Regions from separate parts of the Homo sapiens genome. Here region 2 is linked to region 1. A link means that fine-mapping ties the variant in region 1 to the expression of a gene that starts in the linked region. Tissue or cell type: whole blood. Region 1 holds a variant in brackets; the other region holds the start of a gene. All regions are shown on one strand. Distances are from middle to middle.

Region 1 (2,893 bases):
ATCACCTCCCAAAGGTCCTACCTCCAAATACAATCATATTGGATGTTAAAGCTTCAACATACAAGTTTTAGAGGGGGATACACTCAGTCTATGACACACATTAACAATGTATATTCCCAGTAAGTAGGGTAACTGAAACCATGAAGAGGTGAAATAGCTGCCCAAGGTCACACCATTAATAACCAGCCAAGTTGGAATTTGGAATTGGATCTGCCAGATTCCAGAACCCGGATTTTAGCCTTCCTACTGTGCTCGGTCTGATCAGATCATCCATTTAAACCCTTGCTTTGGGAGAATTGCAAAGGTTCACCTCCTGGCAGGCAGAGAGAGGGAAAATAATTCCCTAGTCCCAAAAGCAGAGAATGATCTTTACAATCATCTAAGTCCAAACCTTCATGCTAGGGTCAAGAAAACTGAGTTCCGGAGTGGGTAGTGAGTGGCCCCTAGCTGGGCAGAGCTAGAATTAAAAAGCCCCACTTCCCTGACCTTCATCAGGGACATTTGTACCACTGCAGGCCAGCCTGGCTGTAGGCCGTAATGACTGAGTCTTGACTCTGTGCTCCATTTGACAACATAATCAATACTCCCCTCCCACTGTCAGCAGTCTATGACATTGTCTATGACCTCGTTCATGCCCCATTCTTTCCGCTCTAAGACTCCAAAACGACAAGTTGACTGTTTTATAGGTTTGTTTTTAAACTATATTTTAACATAAGGAATGAATCTTTTCAGGAGTGAAGACAGGTAAATTGAGACCAAGCAGCAGAGCCTACAGCATCCTTGACTATTTCAGGACTGCCTTCGACAACTCCATAAACCAAGTGACACTCTTTTGGAATCCCCTGTTTTGTGACACCTCCCCCCTATATGGAGTCAGAAGACTTGGGTTGGGATCCAATGCCAAATGATTACTTGGCAGATTATTTTTTTCCTTTCCGAGATTCTATTTCTCCATTATCATTATTGGAAATAATGATATTTACTTTAAAATAGAGTTGTAGTGAAGATGAAACAATTAGACAAAATAAACCAAAGCTTGTGAGAAGACAGCCTATCCTGTGTGCTCTGGACCTGGCTCACTTCCAGTGGTTCGCTAATGGCCTCTGGGGGACCACTGGTCACCATCTCACCTCAAACCAGGTCCCTTCCAAGGGCATCTGCTTTGTCCTTGTCACTTAAAGTGCTTCAACACAAGAATTATGGTGTATTGATGCTACTCTGACAGGCACTGAGGTTGGTAAGTGGGGCAAGAGAGTCTACCTGTTTCCCTAGGGAGGCTGTTACCAACATTGTCAGCCCATGTAGGAGGCCTGCCATCCACCTTCCATGTGGCCCAGGCCATGGAATAGGGACTGAGCATTGCACTTGTAGGGACAAGCACACTCTACTTTGCTTCACTCTGCCTGGCGGTCTCTGTTCTCCCTTCCTATCCCCTTTTACACCCTGGGTAAAAGTAGGGAAGGAATAGACATGCCCTG[G/A]TATGGCAAGAAGACCAAGGACTTCTCAGCATGGAGATGTGAACTCAGGGCTGGAGCTTGGCTCCACTGCTTTCCAGCTGTGTGACTTAGGAAAATGACTTCAACTGTCTTTACCTTAGTTTCCTCATCTGTAAAATGGACATAATAATAATTCCTATATCACCAGACTGTTGTGAGAATAGAAGAATATGTATATTTCCAGTTATCTATTGTTGCTGCTATGTAACAAATTAGCCCTAGATTTATTGGTTTAAAATACAACCATTGGTTTTCGCTGTGTTGGCCGGGCTGGTCTCCAGCTCCTAACCGCGAGTGATCCGCCAGCCTTGGCCTCCCGAGGTGCCGGGATGGCAGACGGAGTCGCGTTCACTCAGTGCTCAATGGTGCCCAGGCTGGAGTGCAGTGGCATGATCTCGGCTCGCTACAACCTCCACCTCCCAGCTGCCTGCCTTGGCCCCCCAAAGTGCCGAGATTGCAGCCTCTGCCCGGCCGCCACCCCGTCTGGGAAGTGAGGAGCGTCTCTGCCTGGCCGCCCATCGTCTGGGATGTGAGGAGCCTCTCTGCCTGGCTGCCCAGTCTGGAAGGTGAGGAGCGTCTCTGCCCGGCCGCCGTCCCATCTAGGAAGTGAGGGGCGTCTCTGCCAGGCCGCCCATCGTCTGAGATGTGGGGAGCGCCTCTGCCCTGCCGCCCCGTCTGGGATGTGAGGAGTGTCTCTGCCTGGCCGCCCCGTCTGAGAGGTGAGGAGACCCTCTGCCTGGCAACCGCCCCGTCTGAGAAGTGAGGAGCCCCTCCGCCTGGCAGCCGCCCCGTCTGAGAAGTGAGGAGCCCCTCCGCCCGGCAGCCGCACCGTCTGAGAAGTGAGGAGCCCCTCCGCCTGGCAGCCGCTCCGTCTGGGAAGTGAGGAGCGTCTCCACCCGGCAGCCACCCCGTCTGGGAGGGAGGTGGGGGTCAGCCCCCCGCCCGGCCAGCCGCCCCGGTCCGGGAGGTGAGGGGCGCCTCTGCCCGGCCGCCCCTACTGGGAAGTGAGGAGCCCCTCTGCCCGGCCAGCCGCCCTGTCCGGGAAGGATGTGGGGGGGTCAGCTCCCCGCCCGGCCAGCCGCCCCATCCGGGAGGTGAGGGGCGCCTCTGCCCGGCCGCCCCTACTGGGAAGAGAGGAGCCCCTCTGCCCGGCCAGCTGCCCCATCCGGGAGGGAGGTGGGGGGGTCAGCCCCCGGCCCGGCCAGCCACCCCATCCGGGAGGGAGGTGGGGAGGTCAGCCTCCCGCCCGGCCAGCCGCCCCGTCCGGGAGGTGAGGGGCGCCTCTGCCTGGCCGCCCCTACTGGGAAGTGAGGAGCCCCTCTGCCCGGCCAGCCGCCCCGTCCAGGAGGGAGGTGGGGGGGTCAGCCCCCCACCCGGCCAGCCGCCCCATCCGGGAG
Region 2 (2,893 bases), 58 kb before region 1:
TGTTTCTCTCTGAACTTCCTGAAGTCAACTGGGCGGAGGCCCTACCGGTTCAGGCACCTGCAATTTCCGCCTTTCTCCTTCCCCTTCTTCCGGGCTCCCGTCCCGGCTCATCACCCGGCCTGTGGCCCACTCCCACCGCCAGCTGGAACCCTGGGGACTACGACGTCCCTCAAACCTTGCTTCTAGGAGATAAAAAGGTAATGATCGTCATGTGCAGTATGAGGTCTTCACGTGAAAGCTTTATTTGGGTAGGAAAACCTAGCCTACGAGAAACGGGTCCGTGCGGTCACGCCTGACTGCCTGTCTCCGGGTCAAGGCTGCCAGGACCAGCTCCAGCCCTCCGCCCGAGAAGGCTGTCCTTTCCCCTCGGAACTCTGGCTTCCCTAAAGCGGCCGCGCCTCCTTCCAGGCCTCACCTCCTGCCGGCTCCGCCCGGCCCGGCCCACCTCGCCCCCACCTCGGCGCCCACCCATTGTCCCCTCGCGCAGTCACCGAGCGCAGATCCCGCGCTCTCGATTGGAACGCCTCCCCATCACTCAGCCACACTCAGGGGCTGGACGCCTCACTCCCGTTTCCGAGCCATAAAAGGTCTAGGACCGCTTCCCCCGAGCCAGCAGGTAAAGCCGCGGCGGCGGGAGGGAGGCCGGGAGGGGCCGCGCGCCCCGGTCGGCCCAGCCGGGGAAGGGGAGCGGCGGGCGGGGCGGGGGGCAGCGCACCACACACAACCCTCCCTTGCCGTGCGACCGCGCCCTGCCCCCGCCCCGGGGCCCCCGCCCCGCAAGTCCTGATCACAATGCCGGAGCCGCCGAGCCACCCTTGTCATCCTGCCCGGGGACGGCCCTGGGGCAGTTACTACCGCGAAGCACGGAGGGTGGGGCGGGCCGGGCCTCGGGGAGGGGTGGGGGGATGTGAAAGGTCCCGGATGTTGCTGAACGGGAGCCCCTTCCAGAGGGAGTGACTGGGGCAAGCGCAGACGGGCTGAGCGAAAGCTAAGGTGGGGGTAGGGAGAGAACGCCTTCCCGCCGGCTGAGAGGAAGAGTGGGCCGGCAGAGGCTGCAGGGGAGAGGGAGAGAGAGGGCGTTGGGGACCCAAAGGGAAGGCGAGGAGTGGGGGATTTGCGTTGGGGAGGAAAAGGAAAAAAGCAGCCTCCTGCCCTAGGTGCACTCGGGACAAGCGTAGAGGAGCTGGAAGCCGAGCGGGGTGGGAGGAGTGGCGGCTGCGGGCGAGGACGCGCGCGCCTCCGCTCGCCCTCCAGCGCGGGCGGGCAGGACGAGCGCCGGGGAGCGGCGGTTACGCGGGGCCCCGATCGCTGTGGGCACCAATCAACGGTTGCCATAGCAGCGTTTGACGTCATCGTGCGTGTGGTGCCCCTGCTGCCGGGGCTGGTGATTGGAGGAAACCCCGTGTCTGCGGAGCGGCTGTAGCCTGTGAGCAGCGAGATCCAGGGACAGAGTCTCAGCCTCGCCGCTGCTGCCGCCGCCGCCGCCCAGAGACTGCTGAGCCCGTCCGTCCGCCGCCACCACCCACTCCGGACACAGGTGAGGAACCCGGCCGCCGCCGCGCCTCGCTTCCTGTCCCAGGCCAGCCTTCCGAACGCGTGGGAGCCGTCCTCGCTCCGTCCCCTCATCCCCACTCGCCCCGCGGTGGCGGCGCCGGGCTGAGGCGGAGTCTCCTCAGCGGACACGGGCGGCGGCTCCTCTTCCGCTGGGCTCGGGAGGGCGGCTAGCGGCCGCCTCCGGCTCCTTGCTTCCGCATCGACGCCCCGGCGCCGATCGGTGCTCGCTCCCCCGTCCTGCCCCCGGGGGTGGGTAGGGCGCCCACACGCGAGATCCCTGGGGATCTCCCTGTCGCCGGCTCCCGAAGGTGGACGAGGCATGGCCGGGGCGCCGCCGGCCGCGATCCATCCCCACCCTTGTCTCTGCGGGCTTCCACCCCCTCCCTCGCCGCCCTTCTCGCTTCCGCCCGAGATAATGACTCGGCGGCGGCGGCGGCGGGCATCGCAGTGGCGCAGGTGAGGCCGCCCCCTCCCCTCTCCCTCGGCCGCCCCCTCCTTTCCCTCCCCCTCGCGCAGCCTCCGCGCTGGGCGCTGCGGCGGCGGGACCCGGCCCTCCCCCACCCCGGGAGGCGGTGGCGCGGCGGGGAGGGGCCGGGGGCCTCGGGGACCCAAGCGCGAGGGAAAGGCCTGGCCGAGAGCGGGCCGGAGCCCAGGCCTGGCGCGGCGGCGCCCGCCAGGTAGACCGGGGCGAGGCTGCGCGCCGGCGGGAGGGGAGTCCACTGCGGGGTGAGGTTTTGGGGTGGGGCTCGCCTGGGACCTAGAGCTGAATTTCCTGGGCTCCGCGGTGGGAGGAAGGACTTGAATTTTCCTGGTGGGGGTGGGGGATGGGTCTGACTTTTTTTGCTCCTTGTGAACGGGCGGGGGAGGTGTGGACGGGGGCTGCAAGTCCAGGTCGGGGTAGAGAACAGGGTGGTGAGCCCGCAGTCGGCTCCCGTGCTTGATGGACTAGAACTGGAGGGTCCCTGCGCTCGGTTTGGGGACGCATATCCTGCTTTGGGGGCGGGTGAGCCTGAGCATAGCCGCTGGTGGCCCGCTCGGCTGGGTGTGGCTCTCGTCCCCTCCCCCACCTGCAGCTGTCGGTCCCTTAGAGACGCTGTACACGGTCACCGGCGCTGATCGGTGGCGGGGAAGGCGCTGGGTGGGAGAGCGGGGTGTGTCCGCGGCGGGGCTGGTAGTGGTTCCGCTTCTGCGGGCTGCTGTGGCGTCTCTGCCCCGGGGTCGGGCGGCTTCGCTCCCCATCTCTCCCCCCCCCCCACGGCTTGGGCGGGGGCGCGGGCTGCTCCTCCCTCTGGCTCCGGTCGGGGGGAGGAATTAACACTCTGCAGTAGGTTGGGCTCCC

What was found.
Region 2: YWHAZ starts here. The variant in region 1 is fine-mapped to the expression of YWHAZ in whole blood (TOPMed, PIP above 0.99).

Annotation. Positions count from the first base shown.
Region 1 is chr8:100,892,196-100,895,088 of GRCh38, reverse strand. No RefSeq gene overlaps it. Among named protein-coding and RNA genes, the nearest start is that of YWHAZ, 58 kb to the left of the region's middle. RefSeq lists an enhancer at 1,796-2,474. The variant G/A (reference allele first, on the strand shown) is at 1,479.
Region 2 is chr8:100,950,573-100,953,465 of GRCh38, reverse strand. It overlaps YWHAZ (tyrosine 3-monooxygenase/tryptophan 5-monooxygenase activation protein zeta), which reads left to right and starts at 1,446. Exons shown (of 6, transcript NM_145690.3): 1 at 1,446-1,537. RefSeq lists enhancers at 1-91, 102-211, 491-1,349, 2,502-2,581, 2,208-2,893 and silencers at 352-1,031, 1,052-1,311, 1,542-2,311, 2,702-2,893.